Linked DNA regions of Homo sapiens: all the other regions are linked to region 5. Evidence: fine-mapped expression QTL. A gene starts in region 5. Each other region holds a variant in brackets. All regions are shown on one strand. Distances are from middle to middle. Region 1 overlaps CPNE5 (copine 5). Region 2 overlaps CPNE5 (copine 5). Region 3 overlaps CPNE5 (copine 5). Region 4 overlaps CPNE5 (copine 5). Region 5 holds the start of CPNE5 (copine 5).

Region 1 (6,135 bases), 23 kb before region 5:
CTAAAAATACAAAAATTAGCCAGGCATGGTGGCGCATGCCTGTAGTCCCAGCTACTTGGGAGGGTGAGGCAGGAGAATCACTTGAACCCGGGAGGCAGAGGTTTCAGTGAGCTGAGATCGAGCCATTGCACTCCAGCCTGGGCAATGGAGCAAGACTCCATCTCAAACAAAACAAAATAAAACCCTCAAGTAGCTTAGCATCACACTTAGATCAGTATCAGAACTCTTTATATGGCCTCTGAAGCCCTACAGGATCTGAACCTGATGACCTCTGTGACCGTATTGTCCACTTTCTTAATTGTTCACACCACTCAAACTACACCAGCCTTCTTTTTGTCCTTGAAATACAGTAAGCTTGTTCCCACCTCAGGGCCTTTGCACTTGCTGTTCCCTCCACCTGCAACACCCTGCCCCCCAGAATGATGCATGGCACCACTCAAGACTCAGCTCCAGTGCCACCAAGTTTGGCTTGGTTCACAGGATCTCCAAGGGCGGCCTCTCCCACTGTGATGGAGTGCCCAGGTCAATGGTAGATTGCGGTTAATATTTCCAGGCATTTTCATAAGCATTACCTTAGTTAGTCTACCCACAAAGGTCTCTTAGCCCCTTTTTATCGATTAGTAAGCTGAGACTTGAGAAGATAAATAACTCACCTAGGTCATACAGTTAGTAAATATCAGAGCTGGTATGAAAACCCAGAGTTTTGGACATCAAGTTCAGGCCTCATCTGACAAATGCATTTGACTGTTATTCATGATGTCTTTAGGGACCAGATGGGAAAATATAGCACATAGGTGGCTGAACGGCCTACCCCAAAGGTCAATTAAAAAACTGAAGTCAATCTGGGAAAAGATCTCTAGTGGAGGAACGCAGTACTCCATCCCATTCAATTCCTTGTCACCTGTGTCGGTGAGGACTACAGCTGACCCAGGACCAAGAGGCATAACCAAGATGCTGAATGCAAGATCGTAATTCAACATGGTCTCCATAAACTGTAACAACGGACTGAATCCAACAAACGACACATGATGGCAATAAATGTGAAATCACAGATTTAGGTTCAAAAACTCATTGCCAACTCTGAGGTAGGGAAATTGGCAAAGCTATTTGGACAGCAACTCATGGAGAAAGACACAGAAGTCCCCAAACTCAGTACGAATTAAGTCAAAAACACCTGCCAAAAGATCAGTGGCATATTAGATAGTGTCGCTAGATGTGTAATCCTCAGAAGCAGACACAGAATGCAGAGGCCAGCAGGGAGGAGCGTGATGATCTAAGGCAAGCCCCTGTGTGGAGGAAGCCAGCCCATGATGCTCTGGGCTGCAGAAGGGGATGGCGGGGACACATGCTGTCCAGGAGGGTGCTCAGGTTGGTAAAGGGACAGAAAACAGTGATATGAAAAGCTTCAGTTTCCTCCTCTGTCAAATGGGGCCAATAATAATAATAATACCTCCTTCATAGGATTGTTGTGAGGATTCATTGAGTTAATGCAGGTAAAGTACTTAGAACAGTGTCTATGGCCAGGTGCGGTGGCTCACGCCTGTATTCCCAGCACTTTGGGAGGCCAAGGCAGGTGGATCACTGGAGGTCAGGAGTTCAAGACCAGCCTGAAACCAACCCCATCTCTACTAAAAATAGAAAATTAGTCGGGCGTGGTGGTGCACGCCTGTAATCCCAGCTACTCAGGAGGCTGAGGCAGGAGAATCACTTGAACCCGGGAGGTGGAGTTTGCAGTGAGCAGTGATCGTGCCATTGTACTCCAGCCTGGGCGACATAGCAAGACTCTGTCTCAAAAAAAAAAAAAAGAACAAAAAAAAAGAACAGAACAGTGTCTGCACATTGCTGTCATGTGTTTGCCATTATCATTACTGTGATTGGTGTCATCTCCCTGGGTTGAAAGTGAGCTCCTCTGGTTGTAGGCAGTGTCTGGTCCCCCTTTGCACCCCCAGCATTCATCCCCCAGCACATAGTAGGTGCCTGCTGTAGTCTGAATGTTTGTGTCCCTCTGAAATTCACGTTGAAATTCTTATTTCATTGTGATGCTATTCAGAGGTGAGGCTTTGGGGAGGTGATTAGGTCAGGAGGGCAGAGCCCTCATGAATGGGCTTAGAGTGTGTTCATCCCTCCCACCATGTGAGGACACAGCAAGATGGAACTGGCCCTCACCAGACATTGAATTTGCTGGTGCCTTGATATTGGACTTCCTGGCCTCCAGAACTGTGTAAATAAATTTCTGTTGGTTATAAGCTACCCAGTTTATGGTATTTTTGTTATAGCAACCTGAACAGACTAAGACAGTGCCCAACACATGCTCACAGAGGTTATGTGAAGACACATGTCAAGTTGCCCCGAGGAAGATCATTCAGAATATTTAGAGATGAACCATCAATTTCAGCTGCTGGTGAAAAGTTTAACAGGCTAATTCTCCTCAAAAAAGAGACTGAGTGCTTTGGCAGGGACATGTGGGTGTGGTGGCTGGGGCCAATGACTGCAGTGGTATGGGGCGATCTGCTGGACACCCTAAGATTCTGTGATTCCCATTTCTTTTCCAAGAGGCCCTCAGCCAAGACAGCTGCCTGGTGAGGGAGGGGCAGGGATCTCCATACCCACTTTTCAAATGGGAAACCTAGAGGGGTTCCCTATCATGTCCCTCTTCCCAGTGGAAGCATTTCTGGGACTCTTCCCACCTGGCCATCCTGCCTTAGTTAGTCTACCCACGAAGGTCTCTTAGCCCCATTTTATAGATTAGTAAGCTGAGACTTGAGAAGATAAATAACTCACCTAGGTCACACAGTCAGTAAATATCAGAGCTGGTCTGAAAACCCAGGGTTTTGGACATCAAGTTCAGGCCTCATCTGACAAATGCATTTGACTGGACATGCAGAAGGCCCTGGCAGGACTTGATGCAAACAGTGCTTGATTTTCTGGGCTAAAATTACATCTTGAGTCAATTTTCATGAAATGTGGTGACAGATTTAGGTGCTGGGAAGATGGAGCTTTCTCAGAAGGCATAAAAATGACCCAAATGGTTAAAACCAGCTGAAAGCCGGCAGCCAGGGGCCACGAGAGCAGATTTCATCCCTCCCAGGATTGGCTCATCTGCAGCCTCATGCAAACCCCACGTACAGAGAAAGTGCTGTGCCTGCACTTGACTTCCCCTGACCACAGGATTATTATTTCTCGG[A/C]CAAGATTCTGGTAACAGAGAGGTGATTTGTTCCTGAAGGGCAATGAACTAGATGGAGGAGTGGTGGGAACTGGTTCCTGTTTACTTGCAAGGGCAGTCTTCTATCCCAGAGGCGGTTCCATAGAGACAATCTGGATTTTTCTTTAATTCTCCATTCCTGATACTTTCCTCTGTGGGTCGCACAGAGAATCGAGCAAGGAATTACAGCCCCTCTCCCGTCCCCAGTATGTTTGTTTGTTTGCTTTCGAGACAGGGTCTCATTCTGTTGCCCAGGCTGGAGAGCAGTGGCACAATCTAGGATCACTGCAACCTCTGTCTCCTGGGTTCAAGCGATTCTCCTGCCTCAGCCTCCCAAGTATCTGGGACCACAGGTGTGGGTCACCATGCCTGTCTAATTTTTAGATTTTCAGTAGGGACGGGTCTTGCCAAGTCGGCTAAGCTATCCCCAGTATGTTTAGATGCATCTTCCTTTCTCCAGAAAAAGCTGTGTGAAGGCCGGGTGCAGTGGCTCACGCCTATAATCCCAGCACTTTGGGAGGCTGAGGCGGATGGATCATCTGAAGTCAGGAGTTCAAGACCAGCCTGGCCAACATGGTGAAACCCTGTCTCTACTAAAAATACAAAATTAGCTGGGCGTGGTGGTGCATGCCTGTAATCCCAGCTACTCGGGAGGCTGAGACAGGAATATCATTTGAACCTGGGAGGCAGAGGTTGTAGTGAGCTGAGATCATGCCATTGCACTCCAGCCCGGGCAAAAAGGGTGAAACTCTACGCAAAAATAAATGAATAAATAAAGCTCTGTGAAACAGCATGTGCCCTAGGGGTGGCCCACGTGGCTGAGCTCTGCCATCTTCACTCCTGGAGTCTGGGCACGGGTCCTGCTCACCTCTCATAAATGAGGTCAGCCTCCTTGATCTCTACGGACCCTTCTGCTCTGACATTCTCACTCTACAACTCCAGCTGTCCTCAGCCTGACATCCATGAACTCCCTGTATTGACTCTTCCTGTATCTTGCCAGCCTCACATCCTGAACACCAGCCATGCTCCTCTGTCTGTGCTGGACAGCCCCCGTTGGCCCCTCTGCTTCTACACCCAGCCTTTCCCCACACTGCTCTGTGCCCAGGAAGAAAGACTGACCCAAGTTGACTGCCCCAATGGTCTGTTGGCCCTAGGTCTCCTACTGAGGTTCCACCAATGGGAGGCACCAGCAGGAGATAGGAGGACGGGAAGAGACTGAGGTTGCCTGAGTTGACTCTGTCCCTCCAGTGGGGCTCCTGGTCCTGTTTGGAAGTCCCTTGGGGTTCTAGAAACCAGGACTCCCCTTCCTCCCAAGGCCTGGAGTAGTAATGGCTCCCTCCTATTGCTACCCTTGAGACTCACCATCTTTCATTGATTTCCTTGAACCCCATCCACCCCTTTATTACATCCCTCAACAGTGCAGGATGCTACTGGGCCCCTGGGTTATGTCTTCGCACGTCACTGAAACCTGAAACCCAGCTCAACTCAGCTCCTCCACAGACTGAGGCCAGTCCTGCCCCCGTCTGTAGGATGAGGAGGTTGAGCCAGATGATCCTGAAAGTTCCTTCCAACCCATATCTCCTCTGTTCCACATCATGCACCCCAGGCAAATGGCTTGTGCTTGGGCTCAAATTCCATTTAAAAAAATCCAAATGACCTGTCAAAATGCCTTAGTTGAATGTGGCCTTCTGGCTGCGACTTTCCCTCCCCTGAACTCCCATTTTCTTCCATCCATACTTCCCTTCTCGTCGTTTCCCGTTAGGATTGTTCATCCACATGCATCTCCCCTCCCAGGCTGCAACTCTAGTTCCAATTCACACATTTGGTGATGCTCTGTTCTTTTGACCCATCTCCCTATTTTCCCCAGCGCCTGGCACTTCATAAATGCTTCCTGTTGCAAATATTAACTGAGATGGGAAGAGTGACCAGGAAGGCCCCAAACACTTTGGATGATGCTGTATAATGAATATTTACTAAGCACTGACCATGCACCAAGGCACTTTACTTCCGTCATCTCGTTTCACCCTCACCGCAGGCCTATAAGGTAGGATTTACCCTCAGACGCCAGATGTGGAAACTGAGGTGCAGAGAGGTTAAGTAACTTGCTCTAGGCCCCACCTCCAGAAAGGGCTGGAGCCAGGAGCAAGCACAGGTGTATTCCACACCAAGGCCACCTGTCTTCCCTCTACTCCACCCTGCGGCGGGTGTAGTAACAAGATGTGACTTGGACAATCAGAAACCCTCAACCAAATGAAGACAACTCTCAATTACAGAATGTAATTAATGGCTCACCAAAGAGTGCCCTTCTGAAGAGCCCTTCCACACTTTCCTTCATGAATCACGAGGACATGAACACATTCCTGGTTTTTATGAAGCACAGCCAAAAGGCCTCAAAAGTCATTAGTTCACTTAAGCAGGCTAAATGTTTCCCTAGCAATCTGGTTTATGCTTTAATTGGCATAGACTCTTGGACAGGGTGGAATAGTAAACTTTAGCCCAGCCCCTGTGGAAATATTTCTCACATTTTTTTTGTTTTTGTTTTTGTTTTTTCTGAGACAGGGTCTCGCTCTGTCAACCAGGCTGGAGTGCAGTGGCACGATCTCAGCTCACTGCAACCTCCACCTCCTGGGTTCAAGCGATTCTCCTGCCTCAGCCTCCCAAGTAGCTGGAACTACAGGCATGGGCCACACCCAGCTAATTTTTGTGTTTTTAGTAGAGATGGGGTTTCTCCATGTTGTCCAGGCTAGTCTCGAACTCGTGACCTCAAGTGATCTGCCTGCCTCTGCCTCCCACAGTGCTGGGATTACAGGCATGAGCCACGGCGTCTGGCCCCCACATGTTTCCTTTCTTTCTTTTTTTTATTTGTTTTACAGATGAACTTCCCACATGTTTCATGAATAAAATTCACCCCCTTCAACCTCTTGGTCCCACCA
Region 2 (6,135 bases), 92 kb before region 5:
GAGTGAACATGGAGAGACAGAGAAACACAGAAAAGGGGGTAGGGAGAGGGAGGGCACTCAGAGATAAAGAGCAAAGGAAACCAGGCTGCGCCTGGAGGAGAGAGGGAGGGTGGCAGGGGGAATGGGTCATAGGTCTGCTTTGGTGAGTCACCCCCATCCCCTCTTACAGGGAGACCACCGGCTTGGGGAGCCATGTTCCTGAGCTTCCCCAACTCTGAGCCTCCCCTCCCACTCCTTTGACCTGGCCAGGCTGGCCTGGGAAAGGGGGAAGCGGTCCTAGAGATGGGTTAATGAGGGAGTCATTGGGGTCTGGAGGGAGTAGACCAGAGCGTGACTAAGAGGTGGGAACAGAGCTCACCAGCCAGATCTCTCATGATCTGGGCACCCCTTCCACCCGCTAGAATCCACTATCCAGCACCGGACTCTGCAGCCAGAGGCCAGAAGGTGGATGAGGGCAGTGGGGCCCAGTGAGGCAGGGAAATGAGAAGCCACGCCCAAGTCATCTCCAAGCATTTCCCTAAGGTCAAGGAGGTAGGCACATCCCCAGGGTTCCCCTAACGGGGAGGAAGACACTCCTCAAACCGCCTCCCCCACCGCACACTCCTTGCTTACGTTGACAATGGCCTCCTTGGTCTGCGCCATGTCCGAGATGACCCCATCAGTAATGATGAGCAGCACCGAGTACTGGGAGCCATCCTGCACGGCCGCTGCATTCCTGGGTGGGGCAGGTGTGGGCTCAGGTCTGTCTGCGGGACCTCTGGGCATGTTCCCCCCTAAACAAGGACCCTGAACACTTTGGAGGGTGACAGCTCTTGGGGGAATCTCTTCAGGGTCAGGGCTCCCTGAAAGGCAAGTGCGTGGGAAGAGAAACCCCCTCCCACCACCCAGAGGCAGAGCTGGTGTGGAAACAGAGGCCTTGTGAGTGCCTGGAGGCGGTGGCAGCGGCACTCACCTGGCCACGTGGGTGACCACGGGGGCAAAGTTGGTGGGGCCGTACAGCTGCACAGTGCGCAGGCTGCGGTGGTAGGCCTCCAGGATGCCGTCGATGCCACAGCATGAGGGGTTCTCCTGGTTGCCATTCTGGGGGACAGAGGGCAGGGAGGCTGAGCCCAGGAAGGAAGGACAGGGGTGCACGATGTGTGGGAACTGAGTCCAGGTGGGGAGGCCAGCAGGCCTGGGCTCCCCCAGGTCTTCTCTGGTGTGGGGTGGCGGGGCAGGGGAGGGAGCTCCCAGGGCCCATCCTGAAGCAGTGCATGCTTCAGGTGAGCTGGGTCCAAACCTGCTCCTTACCCGGCTCCCTGTACCTGTTCAGAGATGCCCCAAGATCCCTGGCTGCTTCCCTCAGGGAACCTTGGGTAAATCCACTCTGCCCTAAAATGACTGCTGGGTCTCAGCAACTCAGGAAGGACCTGTGGCTGATCTGTCCACGTGCACACTGGGCCCAGCACAGCACCTTGCACCCTCAGGCATGGGAGGGACGTCTGCTGTGCCTGAGTGTCCCCAGCTCGTGGGAGCCAGGGAAAGGGGTGGCCTGTGCAATCATCTCCACAGGGCCCGGGATGCCCAGATGACGCCATGCTCCACATCACCCTGGAGATCCACGTCATCCCATCTCAGCACTGACTCAGGGATACCCAACCCACACCACCTTGTTCACTTTTCTGGGGCCCTGAGGGATGGGTCAGCCACAGCTCGCCTCCACCTGCACCTGCGTCTTGTCAGGAACAAGGAAGCCAGGGCCAGCTGTGGGCAGGCAGCTTCAGACATGGAGGGGCAGCATCTGTGATCAGGGAAGGGAGTGGATTTCTGGAGCCCCCCTACACACAGCAGGCAGTCTACCTCCACTGAGGCTGAGCCTTAAGTCCCCGGGCTCAGAGGAAGGGAAACGTCCCCCCACCCCCAGCTTGTCACCTCACCCCCAGCCTGATCAGTCCTCTCTCCCACCAGCGGGACCACCTACCAGTGGGAACTCGTGGGACACTCTGCCATCCGGGGGCAGCTTGGCCCCGAAGCCCAGGGCAGGGAACATCTTGTCACTGTCGTAGTGCTGGATGATCTCTCCGACGGCAGTCAGCGCCAGCGCGTAGGCGTTCAGCTGGTAGGGGCTCATGTAGTGCAGGGATGTGGACTGTGAGGGGTTCCCTGTAACACAGGACATGGGAGCCTTTGACCATCTGGACCCTCCAAGTCACCCCGGGTTCAGAATGAAGAAGGGGGTGTCCAAGGGCACCCCTAACTTTTATTAATTCTTGACTCCTCTCTTTCTCTCATACCCCATGTTAAATCCTTCAGCAAAACAGATCTAGAATCCCTCCTCCGCCTCTCCTCCTCCCCATACCACCACCCTCTTGCTTATAGGATGCAGCAGTCTCCTAACTGATCTCCCACTTCCTTCTGCCCCTGTGCCTCCAGCCCATATCCAGCACAGCAGTGACTGAGCCTATC[C/T]GCCTCAGAGAGATCATGCCTCTCCTCTGCCCAAAACGCTCAATGCCTCCACCTCCCCCAAAATGAAACCCAAAGTCCTCACAAGAGCCCGCAAGCACTCATGATCTGGCCTCCAGGTCATCTCCTACCCTCCTCCCTGTCACTCGCCAGTCCCAGCCTCACCAGCCCCTCGCCATTCCCACCTCAGGACCTTGGTGATGGCTGTTCCCTCTACCTGGGACACTCTTCCCCAGATGTCCACTCCCTGGCCCGCTCCCTGGCCTCTTCAGGTCTCTGCTCAAGTGTCACCTCCTCAGTGTGATCTTTTCCAAGCAGCCTATTAAAAATTACAGCCTCCCCCAATCCTTCCTATCCTTCTTCCTGGCTTGATTTCCCCCCCCAGAGCCCTCTTCGCTGCCAATATAGTCTGTATTTAACTTATTTGTTCATTGATGGGAGGTAGTACAGCACAGATTGCCAAGGTACCAATCCTGTCTACCTCCTGCTAGTTATGTGATCTTGGGTAAGTTCCTTAACCTTAGCCTTAGTCTCTTCACCTGTAAAATCAGAGCAATAATAGTTCCTACTTCATAGGATTGATGTGAATATTACACAGATGCTATCGATATTATGATAACTATCCTCAGTGTTATTATTACTAAGGCCCCTTCCAGCTCTGATAGCCCAGTGCTCTATGATGCTAGGACTTACAGCTATAAGAGGAGCTCCTGACACCTGTAGAGGGCAAGACCTGGGCATTTTTGATTGGTGCAAAAATTAGCACTGAGCACCCCTAATAGAGCCCAGAGCCCAAGGGAGGTTGTGATGTTTCTAATCATGTAAAGTTGGGCACTGTTATTGCTCCTAGTGACTCAGCCACAGGCTGACACTGGAGAAATTGGGAGGAGGTAAGGAAGCCAGGGCAGCCCCAGCCAGGTAAGGACTGGGGTCCCTGGGCTGGATCCTGCCTCCCTGAACACCACAGAGCTCAGCCTTGGCTCTGATTCTCCACTCCAGCCTGTGGGTTGGACTGCACAGAGGAGCTGGGATTTGATCCCGGGGGGAAACATCTCCAGGGCCCTCCATAGGCCCAGAGTACACACAATCCCATTCCCCCAGGGAGACTGGGTGTTCCTCAAGGACAAGGCTGTGGCTCAGAGCCCAGATTTATGTCAATGGTCCAACCTGGGGATACTACTGCCATCTTGGTTGTATCTTTGGTCCTCCAGACCTAGGTACATCCTCTTTGGTGAGGAAGAGGCCAGAGAGTATGAGGGTCATGGTCCCAGCCAGGGCCAGATGCCACAGCCCTTAAAAGCTCTCTCCTCCCACCCTGCTCCTCTACCCATCCCCCAACTCACCATTGGAGGCAGTGAAATCAATGGCCACAGTGAAGTTGATCTGGGTCCTAGAAGAGGGAGAACAGCAGGGGAGTCACCTGGAGGGAGGCAGGGCTGTGGGAGGGGGGACAGTGCTAGACATTGGCTACCACCCTGGCTCTGCTGCTTGCCAGGTGTGTGGCCTTGGTGAAGTCATTCATCTCTTTCTAGTTCTGGAGAGCTGAGATAGTAATGCCAGCTATGCCCCCCTTACAGGATTAATGAGCATCAGAAGAGTTATGCAGTAGGAAAGCTCTTTGAAGATGATTGTGTTCTGTGTGGGCATGTGGCTATGGTCACTTATTTCCTCCACAAACCCTACCCCCTGGGCCCACCTGTGTAGGCTGGGTGAGGTTGGGTCTCATTGGATTGCTGACTCAAATTTGGAGTGAGATTCAGGACGAAAACTCATTTGACAAAAAAGAGAGTCAAATAGACATTATGCATCTCCTAAAGAAAGAATAGAATACCACCCATGAAGTTGTCTTACCAAAAAATTGAACCTGATTCTGATTGAGGCTCCAGAGCTGTCTAGTTAGTTACAGGAAATACAAGGGACAGAGGAACACATTAAATGACACCACAGGAGATGCAGCCAGCAAAATCCAGTCTTTGGGAAACTCTGTAGAAGCACTACCAGAGACAGCAGCAGCACCATCTCCTGGGAATATGCTGGGCCTCTCAGACTCTATCTAGCTCTCCTGAATCTTTTTTTGGAAAAGAGGTCTCGCTCTGTCACCCAGGCTGAAATGCAGTGGCGTGATCACAGCTCACTTCAGCCTCAACCTCCTGGGCTCAAGCAGTTTTCCCACCTCAGCCTCCTAAATAGCTGGGACCACAGGCACGCACCACCACACCTGGCTTTTTTTTTTCTTTTTGCAGAGATGGGGTCTCATTATATTGGCCAACCTGGTCTTGAACTCCTGGGCAAAAGTAATCCTCCTGCCTCAGCCTCCCAAAGTGCTGGGATTACAGGTGTGAGCCACCACATCTGGCTGAATATTAGATTCTCTTGGTGGGGTACAGGAATCTGTGTTAGCAAGCCATTCAGGTGCTTGGGGGGAATGAATAGATGAAAAGAGAATTAAGAGACCAACCCACCAATCACAGCCTATGGCTCTTGCCTGGATTTCTGACTCAAACAAACCAATTTTAAAACTATAAGATAATTGGGGAGATGTAAACATTTACTAGATATTTAGTATTAAGGAATTGTTAATTTTTTAGGTGTGGTTATGGTATTGTGGTTATGTTTGATAAAGAGAGAGTCCTTATGTTTTAGAAAGACATCCTAAAGCATTTGGGGATAAAATATGATGGCTGGGATTTGCTTCAAATTGGATATTGGGAGCCTGAGGTGGGAGGATTGATTGACACTAGGAGTTCAAGGCCAGCCTGAGCAACATAGTGAGACCTCAAAAATAAAAAAAAAAAACCCACTAAAATAAAAAATAATAATAAATGACTGAATGAAGGGTGGAGTGCATGAAACAAGACTGGCTATGATGTGGTAATGGCTGAAGCTGGGTGAAGGGTACTTGCATGTTGATTATACCTTTTCTCCACATTTGCATGTGTTTGACGTTTTCTATAATAAAAAGTTAGGTTTTGAGGATTCAGATTCAGGCTTGAGACTTTCTGAGGGCTTGGCCATTCTAGGTTCTCTGCCGGGTCCAGACAGAACAAAGCTGACAAACACAAGTCCCTGATAAAGTCTAGTCTTATGGTTCTCACACGGCAGTGAGCATAGAATCACTACGGGTGCTTGCTTAAGAAGATTCCAGGGCTCCACCCCAGAAATGCCAATTGAGTTTGTCTGGAGTGGCTCCCAGAATCTACCTCTTGAAAAAATGTCCACTGCCTTCATCCAGGGATTATGAGGACACGAGGCTGGGATAACGCTGGGGAAAACTCTGTTCTAGTAATTCTTAGTTGGGGCTATGGATGATGTAAGATCAGGTAGGCCTCACCTCACTTGCATTTAGCAGAAGGTGCCTATCAGAAACCACAGCTCTATCAGCCCAAGATCCCTGTCACAGACACAGCAGAAGGTCCCTATCAGAAACCACCTGATCACAGCTGAGCTGCTGCTCATGGAACCCTCACTCACCCCCAGGGAAATGTCAAGGACATGGTTAGCAGGAGACCCCAGCCAGGGTCTGCTGGCCACAGACAGTCATCCCCACCTCTTTCTCCTCTTCTGCTGGCTGGGGGCAGAGCATCCAGAGGATTCCAGGCAGTAGGATAGAAGGAGCCGCAAAGCTAGCAAGAACCTGGGTCCCTGAATGACTGCGTGGATCATCTCCCCACCCAACCCTGCCATCCCACAGAT
Region 3 (6,135 bases), 83 kb before region 5:
CCAAGCCAAGGGTGTTAGTTTCCTCTAAGTGGGCACTGGCTCTTCAGCCCCAGGGACCTAGGGTGGGGTGTGGAGGACAAGGGGGCCCTCCTGGCACAGGCCTAACAACCTGCCAATGCCGACCAGCTTCAGGCTTCCATGTGCCTAGAGCTATTAGTCCTGAAATGTGCCTCTTTGGACTGTGCTTATCTTAAATCTTACTGGTCCCATCTCATCCCTCTCAGACCCAAGATCCTGCCTCATAAGTAGCCCATCCTTTTCCCCAGAGGTAACTGACTACCCCAGGCCCCCTCCCCCAAGCAGAGGCCTTTTAACCTATGCCCTGGCAAAGTTAGCTTTGGCTTTGCCAAGACAGGCAGCTACCTGGCAGCTCATTATCATAACAATTTAGAATCAAGGAGACAAATGAAAGCCTGGCATCCTAGGCCAATTATATGAGACAAGATTAGGGCAGAGGACCTTTCACCTGTGTAAGAGAACGAACTCCTCTCTGGTAGTTTGGGAGCCCCCTATTCATGAAGATTCAGCTGTTTTTACAGGCTCATTGGGAGGGCCAGGTGAGAGCACCACCCTTACTTGGCAGTAAGACCCCCAGCTATTGTGGTTAAGGTATTAGGCACCTGGATGAACCACAGGCCTCCTTCCAAGTGTGGCAGCTCAGACTTACTAGGAACCACGGCAGTGGCTTCAACCCTGACTGATGACCATGAGATGCCCTGGGGGCTCTTAGATCATCCTGCAGCCCAGACCCATTATAGCCGAGTTTCCGGGGCTACATGAATGTTTCAGAGATCTTCTTTTTTTTTTTTTTTTTTAGCTCTTCACGTAAGTCTAATCTGCAGACACAGTTGACCACTCCCCATTCCAACCCCCAGGATGAAGCAATGCCCTAACTGCCCTGACCATATGGGTTCACCCAGGGGCTCGCAGGGTGAAAGCAGACTTTCCCCTATTCAAAGGGTAGTGTCCCTAGACCAGAGCGTCAGCATCACCTCGATGCCAGGTAGAAATGCAGAAATGCAGATTCTTGGCATTTTCACAAGATCCCCAGGGGATTCTGCACACCATAAGTAAGGGATGAAAAGCACTAAACACAGATTCCTGGGCCTCCTAAAGTGGAATCCCAGGGAACTGGCCTGGGCGTCTGTATTTCAGCAAGCTTTCTGCATCCCGGGTGATTTTTCGCGATGAAGATGGGGAAATGCTGGAGTAAAAGGAAAGTCAAGAGACCTGGGCCTAGGCCCGCTCTGTCTCCAGCTCACTGTGTGACCTGGGACAAATCGCATGCCCTCTCTAGGCCACAGTTTCTTCGTCTCTAAAGTAAGAAGGCTGGATGAGATCAGTGGTTTTTGAACCTTTTTATTCCCAGCTGGGGAAGGTGCTGTCTTCCCTAGGGGAATTTAGGAAGGCGTGGGAGAATTTTGGGGGTTCTCATAATGACTGGGGCTCTACTGGTAGCTATGGGCAGCAGCCAGGGGTGCTAAACATCCTGTGAGATGAAGAATTTTCCTGCCCAAATGCTGACAGCCTCTCCACTAAGAAACACCGCAGCCTTGGACAAAGGAAATATGACTCCAAGCCCCAGTCTGTGAAGCAGTTACAATCAAAGAAGTGGTGTTCAGTCCCCTTTGAATGAGCAGAGTAATTTTACAGTTCACAAGCCTGCATCTCCCATGTGTCTGTCACAGCTGCCCTGTGCAGTGGCAAGGTGGGGATGATTTATTAGTCCTACTTTACAGACGGAGAAAATGAGGCTTCTCAGAGGAACCCCAGAGCTCCTGAAAACCTCTTCTAGGTCTGGAGATACAGTCTGCCTGACTCAAATGACCAGGCTTGGCTGCACTAGCCATGGGCCTCTAGAGTGAGGAAGGAACACAGAGAGGATGAATCTGGGTGTGTTTGCACTGCAGAGAAAGTGGCTTGTTCTAGAAATGCACTGTGAGCTCCACCTCAGGGCCTTTGCATGTGCTGTTCTCTACAGCAGGAATGCTGGAATTCCCTTTCCCCAGTATCCTCAATACTTCCTCCATTGCCTGTCCCTTTACCCTTTATACTTTTTCCATAGCTCTCATAATCAACTGACACACACAGGCATGTGTGTGTGTGTGTGTGTGTTTTTTTTTTTTCTCTGTCTCCTCCCACTAGAATATAAGCACCAGGGATTTGGGTCTGTCTTGTTTCCAGCTGTATCTGATGTGCCTAGAATAGTGCCTGGCACACAGTAGCACTCAGTAAGTATTTGCTGAA[G/T]AAGCGTATGAATGTCCTCAAGACCAGCCCCGAGAAGCCACTAGGCCGGCGTGTCATCCCAGGAAGGTCACGGTTAAGCAGGGGCAGCGCCCGTAGCAGCTGCCAGCTCTGGAGTGAGATGTCATGTTGAGTCCCATCTCTACCACTTTCTAGCTGTGTGACCTTGGCTGAGTCACTTTCCTGCTTGCAGCCTTGGTTTCCTCTTTCATGACTAGGGGATGATAATATCTGCCTCTCAGGGCAACAACCTGTGAAAAGCACCAACGTGGGGAATTTCCCAGGGTAGGGGCCCAATAAATACGACTTCTCTTCCTCTTCCTTCCTGCAGGAAGTCCCGTGGATGTCTCTGCGATTCCTCATGCTAGATACAGCCAGCGCCTGTTGTGTGGTCTGCAAGTCAACTCTCTCCCCTGGCTGTTGCTCCATCTGCCCCACCCCTCCCCACCCCATCTCTCTTGGATGTCTGATTCCCACGCTCAGCCCCTGCACACACACAGACGCACGGGCCTCCCTGATACCAGACCTAGCTTGGGGCTCAGAATGTCTACACCCGGCTGCAGAGACCGGGGTGGCTACTCACTGTGCCAGAATTCACGTATTTCTTTTTCTTCATTTTCTTTTTCGGGTTTACCACCTGCAGGAAAAACCAGTTACCAGGTAAGGCATGCTTCCAGGCAGTCAGGGTGAGTCTTGAGGGCTTCCAACCACCCATGGGTGTGGTCCAAGCCCAGCCCCATTAGAGTGTGGGGTGTGAAGACCACGGGGCCAGGGGAGAAGGGTTTAAGGAGGATTTGTGGGAGACTGGTATTGAGTCTGGGTTACACAACTGGGTTCTCCCATCAGACCCAGGGTCCCACGATCAACCGGGAATATTTATTTAACCTTCTCTCCCACTGTTCCCCGGAACACACGCACCCTCCACCCAGTATAGCCAAAGAAGTCTTGATGTTGCAAAGCGGCCCTATCTGTACCTGTCCCTTGTGTTGGTTGAGGCTGCTCCCCTCACCAAAAATGCACCCCCTTCCTCTCTCAGCCAATTCCAATCTCCCCTGTTCCTCCTTTGGGACCCAGCCCAAGGGCTGCCCAGGGCCTCTGAGGCTCCCCTCTCCATCACCATCCCTCTTACTTGGCAGCAAGAACCTCTTTAGCTATTCTTTGAGTGTAAGCTTTAACTTCCAAACCAGACCTGTGTCAGATAAATCATGGGGCTAGGCTCAGAGTAGGTGCTCAGAGAAGGCTTGTTGGTGGCTAACTCAGCGGTCTCAACCAGGGGCGATTTTACCCCCAGGAACGTTTGGTAACATCTGGAGACGGTTTTGGTTTCCACAACTGAGGGGGTGAGTAGAGGCCAGGCATGCTGCTAAACATCCTACAGTACACAAGACAGCCTCCCACGGCAGGGAGTGATGCAGTCCCAAATCCCAGTAGTGCCAAGGCCAAGACTGGGCAAAGTGACGAGAGCCACCCAGCCCTGAGGCCCCCCACGAGACTTCCGCACTTACTGTATTTGTATTCTCATTTGACCCTCGCCAGTTTTTCTTTGTTTTGTTTTTAATAAGGGAAGTCTAGGCACAACTTTTCCCTAATGTCCCATCAAACAAAGCCAGGCAATTTTCATACCTCCTGTGCTGCCTGTTGGTTTCTGGTGAACTCATTTCCCCTTTCCCTGTCTTTGTTCCCACAGAGGCCGTCAGCTGATCTTTACCGTGGTCTCTTCTGTCTGGGTGAGTATTGCTATCTACTTCCAGCAAGAAGGAAACTAAAGCACAGCGACACCAGGTGATTTGCCTAAAGTCACACAGCCATCTGGGTAGTGACAGGATTAGAAACCAGGTTTCCTGCCCCCGGGCCAGTGGTGCATACATTGGTGCCACCTTGATAACAGATACAAACAGATCTCTTTGACATACATTTATGGGGTGGGTGGAGACATATATTGCTTCTCCCCTGGAATCATCTATCACCTATGTTGGAGAGAGAAGATATGTCCTCAGGGCAAAAAGTGACAAGGGCCATGGAACAAGGGGGATCACAGAAGTGTCAGGGGAGTTAGAGGAAGGAAAGACCACTCTAGGTGAGAGTGTCAGCAAAGCCTCTCTGGAGCAGGAAGTCTTGAAGGCAGACTTAGAGGCACAGGAAGGCTCTGGGCACGGAGAGATGGATGTCAGAGGAGGTTCTGTGGGAGAAATGAATAGAACCCAGGCCCAGTTTGATGGCAGAACCACAGGGTGGAAGAGTAAGCTGGGCTGGTTGGAGGAGAGCCTAGAATGCCCAGTGAAAAATGTCTGAATGTCACCCAGCGGCCTGCAGGGAACTCTGATGACCCCCAAGCTGGTAGGAGACAAAATCAGAGCAGGCTCTAGGACACTGGGGCCTGGTGGAGGTGAGTGTGAGGGGAGGAGGAGGCTCATCCAGGAAATATTTGCCTAGTTCTGCCACCTAATAATAGCTGTGTGACCTTAGGCAGGTTACTTAACCTCAATGTGCCTCAGTCTCCTCATCTCTAAAATGGGAATAAGAAGTACCTGCCTCCCGGAAAGGTATGAGGATTAAATGGGCCAATGCAAGCAAAGTGCCTAGAACAGTTTGGAATGTAGTAAGTATTATCTATACGTGTCTGTTGCTTTTTTCTAAGACGGGGTCTTGCTCTATGGCCCAGGCTGGAGTGCAGTGGTGGGGTCATAGCTCACTGTGGCCTCAACCTCCCGGGCTCAAGCAATCCTTCCAGGTAGCTGCCACCATGTCTGGCTATTTTTTTTTTTTTGGTAGAGATAGGATCTCGCTATGTTACTCTGGCTGGTCTCAAACTCTTGGGCTCAAGCAATCCTCCTGCCTCAGTCTCCCAGAGTGTTGGGATTACAGGCGTGAGCCACTGCACCCAGCCTTAGTTGCTATTTTTCAAAATTACTACTACTATTATTACTGCCACCATAAGTCCATGCGAGAGGTCATGAGGACTTGGGGGTATTGGGACAGGTGCTGAGCTATGGTGAGAACAGCGCTGTCAAGAAGTGACCACGCCTCTTGGGCCCTGGGCGTGGCTATAGAGGTTCGAGAGAGGGAGGGGTTGGGGTGACCAGGTAGACACAGAAGGAAGGCGCTGGATTTGGGGCACAGGTGGGAAGTTCACGTGGGAGGTCTGGCAAGCTGTGCAGGTAGAAACTGAGGGCCTGGGCGAGATGGTGAGAGAGCCCGGGAGAGAAGACCAGAGCACCCTCTTTAGCACTGGAGGACGCCCCCTCCACGGGGTTACCCAGATGGTGAGGTGCTCACGGACACATTCATGGGAAAACAGCTTAAGTAGGCAAGCTGTTAAGATGAGGGCAAAATGGCAGCCCCAGTGCTGCACTGTGCCTCAGTTTCCCAATCTCTCCCTTGAGGGTGTTGAACTATCGGAATGGACAGCATCTCAAACTTTTGCTCCAACATAGCCCTCCCAGCTGGGGAGAATGAACCCGGAGTCCTGAGAGTAACCAAAGATTTGGCCACAAGCATGTTTCTTCTAAGCTTTCTATGTTATCTTTAAATTAGCCTGTATTCCACATTTCCACTCTCTGATATAACTGCTTTAATGTTAAAGCAATGTTCTGTTCTCAGATCCCTGTTTACCCTGAGGTTTCATGCTCCCAGCCTCAGCCTCTCCAGCCCCGCCACGGTGAATCCCATGCAGGGGGCCAGCGCCACCTAGGGGCCAGCCGAGGAGCTGCCCCTCCACTAAGTCACCTCCCTTCTTCTTGGTGGTCAGGCGGGGACAGGACAGGTCTGGAATCTGCCCTCCTGCGCACATTAGGTGGGGTGGGTGGGGGCACTGAGGGGCTCCTAGGGGCCAGGAGCTGTGCTGGCTCTGGGGATGCAGCAGTAAGTGCAACACAACCCCCACCCTGAGGA
Region 4 (6,135 bases), 98 kb before region 5:
CCCTGCTCCATGCTGGGTTATGTGGCAGCCATGGGCTACCTGCCTGCCACACCGGCTGCTTTTGTGGCCTCCAGCCTCTGCACCATCCTGGCCTACTCCAATTGCGCTGTCAGCCCTATCCTCTGCTTCTACCTCTCCCGCCCCTTCCAGGCAGGACTCAGGGACCTCTTCTGCAGGCCGATGATGGCCAGGCATCCCAGAGGTGTGGGAGTGGCAGCCTCAGTGGTGGCGACTGTCCAGCCTGGCCGTGACAGGGCCTCAGGAGGCCTGTGGGGCCTGGCGGGGGTCTAAGAGTATAGGCTGATGGATGCGCTGAGATTCAAGGGAGATGGGAAGACCCTTAGGGACCTGACAGCCCATCCCCTCTATTTTACCAGTGGAGAGACTGAGACCCAGAGGGCAGATGGCCCAAACAAGGTCACAAAGCAACTAAATGGCTCAGCTAGAGCTCACATCTCTAGGTAACCAGATGGATCCTCCCACTCCACTTTCAGGCTCAGATCTCTGTAGGCTCCACTGCTCTCTAATTGTGTGATCTTGAGCCTCTGTGTCTCAGTGTTCTCATCTGGAAAATGGGATGATGACAGTACATACCTTCTTCACAGGGTTGTTATGAAGATGAATTTGCTAAACACATGTAAAGTGCTTAGAAGGATGCTTAGTAAGTGCATATGCGTGCTGGTCATTGCTACTATTATTATTTTATTTGTATTAATTCAGGGGTATTTGAGGTGAGTGGACAAGAGGAGGACAGAGGGGCTTCCAAAGGCAGAGAAGTGGGTGGAGAATGATCTGGGGGGTAACAGCCTAGGGTCCTTAATCCTGAAGGCCAGGAGATTGAGTAGGGGGAGCAGAGGGCCAGCCACAGCCTGGGGGGTGAGCTCAGAGGCAGGACAGCCTTTCCCCTCTCTGCCCACCCCTCCAGCTCTGTTCCACACACCCCTCAGTCCAATAGGGGGACAAAAATCCAGTCAACCATGCAGCCATGACTCCGGGACTGTGAATGTCTGAAGCCCTCCTTTCTTCCCTGTGGCTTCTCTTCCTGAAGCACCTGGGGCAGGGATCCCTTTCAGAGCCCTTTTCTTCTCTCCAGAGCCCAATTTGAGGTTTCCATTTTTCCCACCCTCAGTGCCCTCCCTCTGGCCTGCTCAGGGCAGGCTTCAGGCTTCCATGTTGGCCTGGAAACCCGGGAGATTGTCTCTACTGAAATTCCCAAGACAGCACGTTCTGCTTGGTGACGGTGTTACCAGCAAAACACACATACACACACTGACTCTGTGATACAAAGCTTGAGAAACGTTGGGTTGAACCAAATCATACTGGTCCCTTTGCTGTAGGACTTACCAGAGCCTTGAATACCCAAAAGGCCACTGAGACTCTCGAGAGGGACGCACAGCAGGCAGGTTCCCAAACTCCATGCCAGAGAGCCAGTATTCTGTGGAACACACCTTGGGAAAGAATCCACAAGATGCTACGGTGTTGGGCACAGCAAAGATGCTCTTGGTGTCCCGTCCCGCCCCCGGCAGTGGCTCTGTGCCTCAGTCCCCCTGCCAGGCAAGCACCCTCTCCTGACACTTTCCCACGGCCCCTGTGGTGAGGTGACATGAGCTGCTGGTTATGGGAACTTCCCTCCTTCCAAGCTGTGACCCCACCCTGTTCCCACTCAAAGCATATCAGAATGTAAGTCACAGGGGCATGTAATTATAGGGACAGCCGTGAATCAGCACCCATTTACTATAAAATCATAAGAAGTAAACAAGTCCCAAACTTTGGTATAATTAGTTCCAAATTTCTTGTGATGTTCAGGGTGGGAATGGCTGCCTGGAGGGCTAATCTGGGAACAAACTTGCCCAGAGAAGGGAGAAATCCCCTTTTGCTATGATCCTGGTCCCTGATGGCCACAGGGATTTATATGTGAAGAGGAACAAGAGGAAAACAGTGTTTCTTGGGCACCTAAAATGCCATGGGTCCTGGGCGCATGTCACATATGTCACATGCAACCTTATGTACTCGTCACTCTGGCCACACGATGACCCTGCAAGGATGGGGGTGGTGGTGACGACCCCATTGCACAGGGGATGCCAGACTCCTCCTCATGGCACAGTGACTCTGGTGCCCACAGATTACCCAGCCCCTCCTGATGGCTTGGCATCAGTACCCCATGGTTGTAGTATTTCCTCGCTCACTGCCCCAGAGCAGGGGCACCCCTGAGGGTGCAATTCTGTGTGTGCATCTCCAGCATGGTCTCCAATACGTGAGTGGGGCCTGGCACTCATGTTTGGTAAATACTTGTTGAGAGATGAGTGAATGAGTGATCAAATGCAATAAAGCAATCCGTTTATTTTAGAGGAAATTCTGATGATGTTACTCACTTCTCTCACCTCCTCAATGGCTTCCCGTTTCACTCAGTAAATGCCAAAGGCCTCATCATGGCCTATGCGGCCTGTGCATTCTGGCCTCTTCACCTCTCCGACCCCATCTCTAGCACTTTCCCTTCCTGCACTCAGCTCCAGCCACACTGGCCTCGCTCTCCTGCAAATGCACCAAGGAAGCTCCTACCACAGGGCCTTTGCGCCTGCTGGTCCCTCTACTTAGAGCTCCCTTCCCCAGATATCAGCGTGGCTCCCTGTCTTACTTCCTGGGGGCTCACCTCAACCATGACCTCCTCTGAGAGGCCCTCTCTGACCACCTCATCGAAAACATCACCCTCCTTCTCCCTCATGTGTCTTTAGAACTCTTGCTACCACCTGAAATGATGTTACTAGCCTATTTGTTGATGTGTTTGCTGGGTCTCTCCCATATTATCTGTGTGTGTGTTGTAAGCCCTGTGCAGGGACAGGGTCTGTGCTTTGTTCATGGCTGCATCCTCAATGCCTAGCACAGAGCGTGGCACGTGGCCTTTGATTGTAAATCTCACTGAAGCAAACAATTGAAGGAAGCCACAGAGGAGAACTGGACCCTGTCAAGCAGCAACGTCAGTGCTATTTTTCAGAGAAGAAAGAAAAACTTCGTGCTTTACTAAAAGAACCAAATTTACTTCAGTTTAAGGCAAATTCCACACAGAGACTGTCTCAGAGACGGGCACAGAACCAGACACCGTAGAAACACCACCACCATGCATGACGGGGAAGCAGAGGCAGGCGGAAGACGGGGGCCTGGCCTGCACCAGGCACGGAGAGGTCAGTGGGCTGAGGAGCTCCATGCGGCAACAGGGATTGGCATGCATGATCTGCTCCCCGAGTGGGCAAAGGCTGGGCAGCTGGGTGGGCCCGGGAGGGAGATCCCCTTCTTCCCCACCTTTCCCACAGCAGGGGCAGGAGCTCGGGCTCAGATGCCAGAGCCCCAGGCTGAAGGACTAGGGTATGTTTGGGGTGATGGGATGAGACAGGGTGACCCAAAAGCCAAGGCGGCCTCAAGTAGGGTCACATCTGTTAGGAGTAGGATGGGGGGAACTGGGCATGGGATGAATGACCCTCAGGATGTCAGACCTAAAGGAAAACCTGGGGCCATCTGGTCAACCCTCTTGTGGTACAGACATGGAAACTGAGGCCCAAAAGGTAGAAGGGCCTTGCTTGGGTTCCCACATTAGGCAGTGGGGGGAGGCAGGGCTCAAACCCAGGACTCCTGTCTCCTAGCCTCATGGGATACAGGGCAAAGAGCAGGAGCAGTGTGGGAACGTGGGGCTGAGCCACTCCTTACTCAGGCCTCCAGATGGGCAGAGGCGTGGGCACCGAGGGCCCTGGGAAGCCTCTGGAGGGAGGAAGGGATTCCTGAAGCCAGGAGTCAACCATGGAAGTACCTGTGGGCCCACACCAGGGAGAGGCCTCCACAGGCCATCTGTGTGTCTAGAACTTGCATCGTACTGAGTTCGAGAGGCACCAGAAAGGGCTCTGTGCTGAGCAGCCTCCACTTCAGGCCCATCACATGGCCTACGGTCCATGATTACAGCACCCCATGGGGTCCCCGGGGCTCCCAGC[G/T]CATCCAGTGTCCCTGGGAGGGTGCACATGTTCAGGCCTTCCTGCAAACCCATCAGCTTCATGGGGTTCACTGGAAATCGGGCACAGGATAGACCACAGGGCGGGGCTCAGGGACAGGAGTAGACACCATGGGAGGATGGGACGGAGATGGGGGGCTGGAGGAGGCCAAGCCCAGGCTTCAGGGTGACAGGTAAGCAAATAGGATTGCCGGGGGTGGGCGACAGGGACCCCAATCACCCTTATTGTTTACACCTTCCTGGCTGGGTTAGAGCCAGGTATTGGGGAAGAAGAGAAGGGCTGGGTCCCTGTGTACCCCTCTTTCACCCGTACCCCCCTAACTCCCTGGGTTTGGGCAATAAGTGAGGCCAAGAAATTGAGGAGGGGTCTTCAGAAGCCCCACCCCCTGGCAGCCTCCCAGGCACACAGATGTCCCAAAGGCCGGGCAGGCCAACTTCGGGGAGTCTGGGGCCCTGGCCTCCCATTCACCTGGCCTCTCCCAGGCCCCAGCCACCTGCCTGCTGAGACCAGGTTCAGATGTGCGTGTGCAGGGGGGACGCAGGGGGCGTGCGGGCTGGGGACTGCGAGGGCGAGTGGGTTGGTGCTGCGGGTGGGGGACGCGGGCGAATGCCCTGTGCCTTCATGTAGGACACCAGTTGGTCAGGGATCTCTGCCAGCACGTCTCGGGCCAGGCGGGCCATGCTCAGCACGTGGTTGCCTGTGCGGTCCACGTAGTCCCGGAAGGGTACAAACTGGCAAGTGGGAGGGCAGGGTCAGGCAGTGCCTCCTGTGGGACCCTGGCCCCCAAAATCTCCAGGCCTGGGGTTGCATCCCCACCCCCCTCCCAGCCTCTGCTCACTTGACTCAATCCCCCCACCTTTCTGAATTACCTGAGGGACTGTATCCCTCAACTCCCTGGGTTTGGGCAGTCAGTAACTATAGTCATAGTCACTATTCTTTCATTCACTCGACAAAAACTGAGCCCTATTCCACACCAGGACACACCACTGAACACGATTTCTCCACCTCGGCACTAAGCACAGGCTCTGAGTAGGTGCTTCCGAAATGCCAACTGAATCCCTGACTTCTGGGGCACGTGCCCTCCTGGGTTTCCCCCGACCTGTCCAGCAGAGCCCTCTCTCTCTGGCCTCTCTTCGTTCCTTTTCTCTCTGGGGCTAATCTGGCCAATGCCTAATGCCAGGCCCATCTGGCTTCTTCCCGGGGGTGCCCTCCATCCTGAGCGCCTCTTCTGGCTCACTCCTGCCTCCAGGCCTTAGCATGGGCCGGTCCCACCTCCCAGGTTGTCTTGCTCTGGTTTCCAGCCCCCTATGTTTGGTCTCCACACCTGGGATACTGGGCCCCAATTTTTAAACCAAGGGGGTATGCAGGATGTCAGCTTTGTCTTCTGCATCTCCTAAGCACTAGGGCCTCCTCTGCAGGGGATGAGTGGGGGAAGTGCTTGCGGAGGGTGCATTCTTCCACGTGAGACTGCATGGGAATTCCCTGAGGACAAAGGTCTTTCTGCTCATTATATTTGCACCGTTCATGGAGATGCTTACATTGATTCAGTTAACCGAGCAATGCCTATTCTTGGAGAAGGCTGCAGCAACACTAAAGACACTGCCTCAGCCTTCAAGGGGCAGAAAAAAACCAGAACGAGGCTGACCACAGAGGCCTGGAGGCTGAGGAAGGGCTGGCAGAGGGTTCTGGCCTCTGGCTGGGCACCCGCAATGTTAGGAGTGTGTCCCAGATGTGACAGAGGGGGGCCCAGCCCAGACCACAGCATGGCCGAGGACTGACTCCTACTCCCTTCGGTGGTGGCTGGGCCACTTTGGGGCTCCCAGTGCCTCCCTTCTGGGCCCTTCACCAGGGAAGCCCCCAAAGGGGGTGTGAGGTCCGCCTGGCTAGAGGGGCTCTTGAATTTCCCATGGGGCAGGCAAGGCCTGGGCTTCACCTGGACGATGTCGCGTTCAGCCAGCTTCCCCCGGGAGGAGATCCGCACGTCGTCGCCATCCAGCTCCACCATGGCTGTGAGGGGAGGAGTGTCATGGGGCGGGGTGAGATTAACGGTGGACCCCTGGCCCTAGCAGGAGAGTGGACTTGTCCTTTCATCCCAGGCCAATCCAGGGCCGAGACCACTGGCCCATGCCCCGTGTTAGAG
Region 5 (6,135 bases):
AACCAAAGGCTTTCTAATCTTGGGCCCTGAGTTTACCACAGTCAGTAAAAATAATTGTTTGGGAGTATAGTATACTCTACCTGAAGCAGGGGCCTGAAACTGTCCATCCCCAGTGTCATTTGCCTTCAGTGGAGACTTGGCCCCGTGGTGGCCCTGTGCTCTGACTCAGATGTGCACCTGTGCCAGGCAGCTTTGCTTAGCTAGCTGAGCCCTAGGATGGGCACAGCAGGTGCAGGATCCTCCCCTAGGCACAGAGCAGAAGAAGGCTCTGTGGTAGGGGAGTGGTAGGCCCCTTCATGAGGAGGAAGGCAAGTGGAAACAAGTGTTCCTGGGAGCCAGAGGTGGCAACTCATAATCTTCCCTGAAACATTGGCCCCTCTACCCCAGCTGCCCATCCTGAAACCCCCTGGAGTTCTCACCTGCCAGCCCCTCTGCCTGCCCTACTGTTCTGGGCCCACCAGCAGGTGTCACTCAGATGCCCAGGGCAGAGCCTCCCCAGAGCCTCCTCTCCTGGAGCCCTGAGAGCGGGTGCAGTGGGGAGGGACTTGACTTTAACTGGCGACCATGGAGTGAAGAATATGCTGGAGAAAGCCACTGTCTGCATTTCTCCCTCCTCCCTGTGCTCCTCTCCTCCTCCTTTTCCTCCTCCTCTTTCTCTCTGTTCTAGAACCTGAATAGTTGGGCCTGGCTGAGGCAGAGAGATGCATCTACAATTTCCAGGCCACCCAGACTGTTTTCTCACCTCCCCTCTGTTCTAAGTGACTGCTCCCTCCTCATCTCTCCCCACCAAAACCCACTTCCCCCCACCTCTGGCTTTCTGGAGAACATGAGCAGGCCCCAGGTCAGGGCCTTCCTCAGCTCATGGATCATGTCCCCCAAAAGGGTATTGACCCAGGGTCAGCCCCAGAACCACATCCCCCAGGAAGGCCTCTTATGCAAGAGGTTTGAGTCCTTTGGACATCTTTACTTCCAGAAAGCAAACAGGAGGGGCCAGGTGCTACCGCCTTCCGGTGATCATTGTAGCTACTTATTGAGCACCTACTGTGTGCCAAGCAAGTGCAAAGTAGCTTGCTAGGTGCTTCATGCTCCTCCACTCCTGCAAGTTAATTCCTCCAACAGTATTTGGCAAGTGCCAGGCACTGCTCTAAGCACATGAGCTACCTTGGTGAACAAGGTTTCTCCATGAGTACATGCTGCTTATTGTTTGTACCTGACAGGTGGGGGAAACTGAGGCTTAAAATTTGCCCCAAGTGGTGAAGCAGAGATTCTGTTTCAAGGTATCTGACTCCAAAGCCACACTATCTGCCCTCCATCTCCTTTCCTCTCCACTGGAGTAGAGGGTGCATGGGTCTGACTCAGGGTGGGAATCCCTGCCCTCAAATGCTTACACAGTTGCTTTGAGAGGGGAGGGATGACGTCTGCACACCTGAGACGTCTCAAGAGGTTTCATCCTCAGTATGTGAGTGACCCTGTGGCCCAGGCTGAGTACCTAGGGCCCACGGGACACAGAAGACAATGATTTGAGCTGTGTGTCTCATGGGTGAGAGGATGCCTGAAAGTGGGGAGCGTGAGGCCAGGCTTTTCAGGAGTGGGGGGATCATGAACTTGGGGAGATAAAGGAAGAGTGAAATCTGGATGGGGAATGGGCTGTTCAGAGGCTTGGAGGTGGGAAGGATCCCAAGACAACTGAAGATGACAGGCATGATTGAAGGCTGGGAGGGAGTGCCAGGCGCAGGGATGTGCGTGCAGGAGAAGGGTGGGGAGGCCGTGCTGCTTTTGATGGCTGAGGAGGTGAGACTGGAGCTAATGGGCCATCAGGAATCTCCCAGCAGAGTAATGACAAGATGCAAATGGCGTTGGGAGATGATCCTGACGGCATGGTGTATGGGACCTGGGAGCTATCACAGGAGCCCCCAGAGGGCCTGGCTTAGGGGGGAAGCTACGTTCAACCAGACTAGCCTTCACTGCCACTTATCCCCAAGTCTTCAAGAGAAAGTCACACTGAGTCCTTCCCTCCTTCACGCCCCTGCCCAGACTCTCCAGCTCTACCTACACCTCATCAATGCCACAACTTTGTAATACAGGACTGGGGGGCAACAAGGTTACCTCTCATGGAGGGTCTGACCAAGGAGCAACCTGGAAGAGGATGAGATGGGTGATTTCGAACAAGGGCACAGCCAGGGCTCCAGAAATGCTGTCGGTGATCTGGGGCAGGGGGCATGGCCTCTGTGGGGGAACCTCAAAGTGGGTGATGCTTGCGTGGCAGCACATGATCCTAGGCCAGCCACAGAGAGACTGAACTAGGGAAAAATCCCCCTTTGCCACCCATACCCTCTTACTGCCAGGGGCAGCCTTCCCCTAGCTAGGAGAACCTGGGGTCGACCCAGCTCTTAGACAGAGAAGTTACCCCCAAACCCTGTGTGACATGAGTGAAGATTTGGGCGTGGTAGCCCACAAAAATATTCCCCCTCCTCCTCTGTTGGACTCTACAGTTTCACAATCAGTGTTCTATTCCTTTGGCTTAAGATTTTTGACCCAAGTTATTTTTTTAATGGTGCCACTTTAAGTTGTTATCATGTATCCACACCTTAGTATGAATGAGTCAATCTGATCCTTTTCCAGGAGTCGATTTCGTTGTTGATAGAGATGAAGGAAGGCTTTAAAATCCTAGAGTCTAGGACAGTGGGGTGGGGGAGACTGGTGAGGGGAGGATCAGGATGCTGGGGCAAAGAAGGGGCAAAGAGAGAAGAGAGGAGGGCACAGAAGGGAGAGGGTGGACGAGCCTGGGAGGGATGGGGGCAAATCACTCACTTCGTGATTTGGGGATGGGGTGATCAGAGATAGCCTGAGCAGAGACCGTAGTACAGCCTTTTACCAACTCCCTCTCCCCACTTGGGTGCCTGGACCCCCTGTTCCTGTGTCTTCATATCTCCTCGATGCAACAGCCTGGAGCGCAAACTTTCTGGGATATGACCCCAGCCTGGCTTCCTATTCTGCCGTCGCCACCCGCAGCTGGACAGGACAGGGGCTCTTGGCAGATCGGCAGGGGCGCAGTCCTGGAGACCAGGACACTCTGGGAAGGGGGCGCGCGGAGGTTTAGGATCGAAGCGGCAGGGGCCGCGGGGCTCTGCGTCCAGGGCCGGGGCAAGGGGACCCGGCCAGCGGGAGGCTCACCTGCAGGACACGGTGATCTCCACCTTGGTGGCCGGGATGCTGCCCGCCAAGGAGTCGAACTCGCTCAGCGACGCCATGTCCTCAGGCTGCTCCATCGCCCACCGCACCCCCCACCCCAAATTAGTCAATCCCTGCGCGATTCACGCCTCCTCCGGAGCGACTGGAGCCCTGGGCTCTCCCCCAACTCCAGAGCCTGGGCTGGGCGGCAAGGGGAGGAGAGAGGAGCGCGAAGAGGGGGCGTGGGAAGTGAGAGAGGGAAGAGGGCGGAGGGAGCGGGGGCCGCGGATCGAGGAGGGGGCTCGGGTGACGCCGCGAGGAGGCTAGGGGCCCAGTGGGGAAGGGCAAGGAGCCCAGGGAGCGGGGGCACAGCGGGGAAGGCAGAGAGGGGCGCGGGGAGAGGGGCTCGGGGAGAGGGCACCGGGAGGGAAACGCGGAGTCGTGGAGAGGGGCACCAGGAGAGGGACGCGCGTCTGTGGGCAGAGGTAGAGGGGATGCAGAAGACAGGGAGAGGGGCGTGAGGAGCGGGAGGCGCCGGATGGGGCGCTGGCGGCGGGGGTGGCGGGGCGCCGGCAGCGCGGAGCCCGAGCGCCCGGGCTGCGCCGCCTCTCCCTGGGTCTTGGCGCCGGCGGCGACGGGGCTGAGACGCGGCTGCGAGCGCCACCTCCTCGGCTCGGGCTTCGGCTCCGGGGCGCCCGGGCTGCGGGAAAATCAAATCTGCCCGAAGCCGCAGCCTCCCGCCGCCCGGGAACGCCAGAGGGGGCGCCCGCAGGGGCCGGGGCGGGGCCGCGGGCGGGGTCTGCGCGCAGGGTGAGTGTGAGCGTGTGTGTGTGCGCGTGTGTGTGTGTGTGCGCGCGTGGCGGGCCGGGGGACGCGGTCCAGATGCTGGGGACGTGGCGGGTGACAGCAAGAGGTGGTCCTGGTCGCGCGCATCTTCATTTGCGCCCGCCCCCTCTCACCACCCCTATCTCCCATCAGGGGTCTCCATCCTGGGGGAGGGGGAGGGTTATGGGAACCAACGGGCGCCTTTTTGAGAAAGGTCTATGCAGGGTTGAGAGGGGGCATAAGTGGGAGGGAGGTGTGCAAAAAAGATCCCCTCCCAGGGGCTTGGGTGTGGAGGGTCTCTGCTGAGTGTGCGCCCTACTCGGGGGCGGGTCTCAGTTCAGAAACAGACCCTACATCTCCTTCTGGGGAGGTGTGTGGGGGCGACCCCAGTGCCAGGAGGGACTACCTCGGTTTCCCAGTGGCCCAGGTGGGGTCGGTGCATGGGCGCCTCCCCCATCCGTGGTTCCCGCCAGCCGCGGCCTCGCCAAGTCGGCTGCCGAAACCACGCGCCAGCGCCCTTCCACTCCCCCGCCCGTCGTGACCACACGACTGAGCCAGCCTCCAGGTCTAGAAGCTCCTGCCACCCAGTCTGGTGGCAACCAGACTGGGAGATCGGCCCGAGCTCCCTGGGCTTCTATGCAGCCAGCACCGAGTAGGCGCGTGCTGTGTGCCTGGCGAGCGAGGGGAGAGTTGGGACACCTCTCCTGCAGTCCTCTTCCCAGCCAAGCCCCTCGCGATCCCCCGCCCTAGCCCAGCCTTGCCCTCCCGGGCATGAGGTTGCAGCGCAGAGGCGTCTCCCTGAGTAAGGCTGCACACGTAGACTTGACTCTAGCCCATCCTCAGCCTCAGCCTAAGCTTTGCCGAGCTGGAACCTCCACTTCCTCGCCCACCGCCTGGCACATCGAAGCCGATGTGCCTCGGGCCGGCGGGGAGGCCAAAAACCTGGTGCTGGGCTGGGCAGAGTTGCGCTCTCTGGGCCTTGTTTGTGGCAGCGGGACCATAAGGGGCTCCTCCGGATTCTGTTTGAAGTCAATTCCTGGAACATCAGATACTGTCAGTCAAAGATAAATACAAGAACACATTCCTCTGCCTGTTACAATTTCCCCATGGCTCAGAATCAGCTGGACTGGGTTCTGCCTCCTGGAACAGGCAGCAAGGGACAGAGGCTGTTAATTCCCCTGACAGCCAGGCACAGCTGGGTCAGGAGGCCCCACTCCAAGGAGAATAATTCTGTCTTCCCTTCCTGAGGATGCAAAACTGAACTCGGAATCTCTATGTTCCCCATCCCCCACATACCTGGCATAAACAATGCTCAAAGCATGCTTGTGGAATATGTTCTCCATTCATTCCAGGAGTGTTTACTGAGCATCTGCTGTGTGCCTGGCCCAGTGACAGGGCCTTGGGAAACCTTGTTCATAACAATAATTAGCATCGTTTTATTTTCAAAGATCTGGGCCAGACACCATGCTTACTTTTTTTTTTTGAAATATTAGTCACATACCATAAAATTACCATTTTAAGTTGTATAAATCAGCGGTTTGTAGCATATTCACAGGGACCGTGCATGATTTTAAATTCTCAAAATAATTTTATAAGTGAGATATTATTACTTTTAATGGGAAAAGCTGCAGTTACTTTGCACCAACCTAATATTATCTACATTTAATAAGTAAGGAAGCCAGTGCCCAGAGAGGCTAAGTAACTTACTCATCATCACCCAGCTGGGGACTGGCATAGTGAGAATGTGAAACAAGGCAGTTGAGACCAAAGCCTGACTCTGAGCAAGAGGCTCCACTCTCTTTTAGGATAGGGCCAGACGATGGAAAATCATCCATGAAATGAGGCCTTGTTGGGAAAGGCAACAATAGGGAGCCATTGCAGGTTGTTGAGCAGGTGAGTAGTAAGATTGAAGTTCTACCCAGTAACCTTGCAAAGTGACAGCATTTGGAGTAGCAGCCCCAGGGTCTCTTGTAGACACTTGTCTGTGTCACTCCATTCCCTTTTAGTCGTTGCACTTTCACTGCTGGCTATTTGGCAAAAAAAAAAAAAAAAAAAAAGAAAAAGAAAAAAGAAAAGAAAAGAAAAGAAAAAGAAAAAAGAAAAAAATGTATATATATGACACATGCTGTGTGCTGGGTG

What was found. PIP is the estimated chance that this variant, and not a neighbour inherited with it, causes the effect.
Region 1: its variant is fine-mapped to the expression of CPNE5 in tibial nerve (GTEx, PIP above 0.99). The same link has a PIP of 0.9 or more in nasal epithelium, skin and sun-exposed skin.
Region 2: its variant is fine-mapped to the expression of CPNE5 in whole blood (TOPMed, PIP above 0.99). The same link has a PIP of 0.9 or more in blood mononuclear cells.
Region 3: its variant is fine-mapped to the expression of CPNE5 in whole blood (TOPMed, PIP above 0.99).
Region 4: its variant is fine-mapped to the expression of CPNE5 in whole blood (TOPMed, PIP above 0.99).

What each region holds. Positions count from the first base shown.
Region 1 is chr6:36,813,367-36,819,501 of GRCh38, forward strand. All of the region lies in intron 3 of CPNE5 (copine 5), which reads right to left. Among named protein-coding and RNA genes, the nearest start is that of CPNE5, 23 kb to the right of the region's middle. The variant A/C (reference allele first, on the strand shown) is at 3,185.
Region 2 is chr6:36,744,436-36,750,570 of GRCh38, forward strand. CPNE5 (copine 5) reads right to left here. Exons shown (of 21, transcript NM_020939.2): 15 at 3,786-3,832; 16 at 1,961-2,142; 17 at 953-1,080; 18 at 613-715. Among named protein-coding and RNA genes, the nearest start is that of RAB44, 50 kb to the left of the region's middle. RefSeq lists a silencer at 498-698. The variant C/T (reference allele first, on the strand shown) is at 2,446.
Region 3 is chr6:36,753,418-36,759,552 of GRCh38, forward strand. It overlaps CPNE5 (copine 5), which reads right to left. Exons shown (of 21, transcript NM_020939.2): 13 at 2,828-2,881. Among named protein-coding and RNA genes, the nearest start is that of RAB44, 59 kb to the left of the region's middle. RefSeq lists enhancers at 1,945-3,144, 5,830-6,019, 5,855-6,135. The variant G/T (reference allele first, on the strand shown) is at 2,248.
Region 4 is chr6:36,737,761-36,743,895 of GRCh38, forward strand. CPNE5 (copine 5) reads right to left here. Exons shown (of 21, transcript NM_020939.2): 20 at 5,929-6,002; 21 at 3,015-4,726. The coding sequence ends at 4,508. It also overlaps the pseudogene GPR166P. Among named protein-coding and RNA genes, the nearest start is that of RAB44, 43 kb to the left of the region's middle. The variant G/T (reference allele first, on the strand shown) is at 3,978.
Region 5 is chr6:36,836,109-36,842,243 of GRCh38, forward strand. CPNE5 (copine 5) reads right to left here and starts at 3,336. Exons shown (of 21, transcript NM_020939.2): 1 at 3,175-3,336. The coding sequence starts at 3,269. RefSeq lists a silencer at 3,800-4,009 and an enhancer at 4,694-5,244.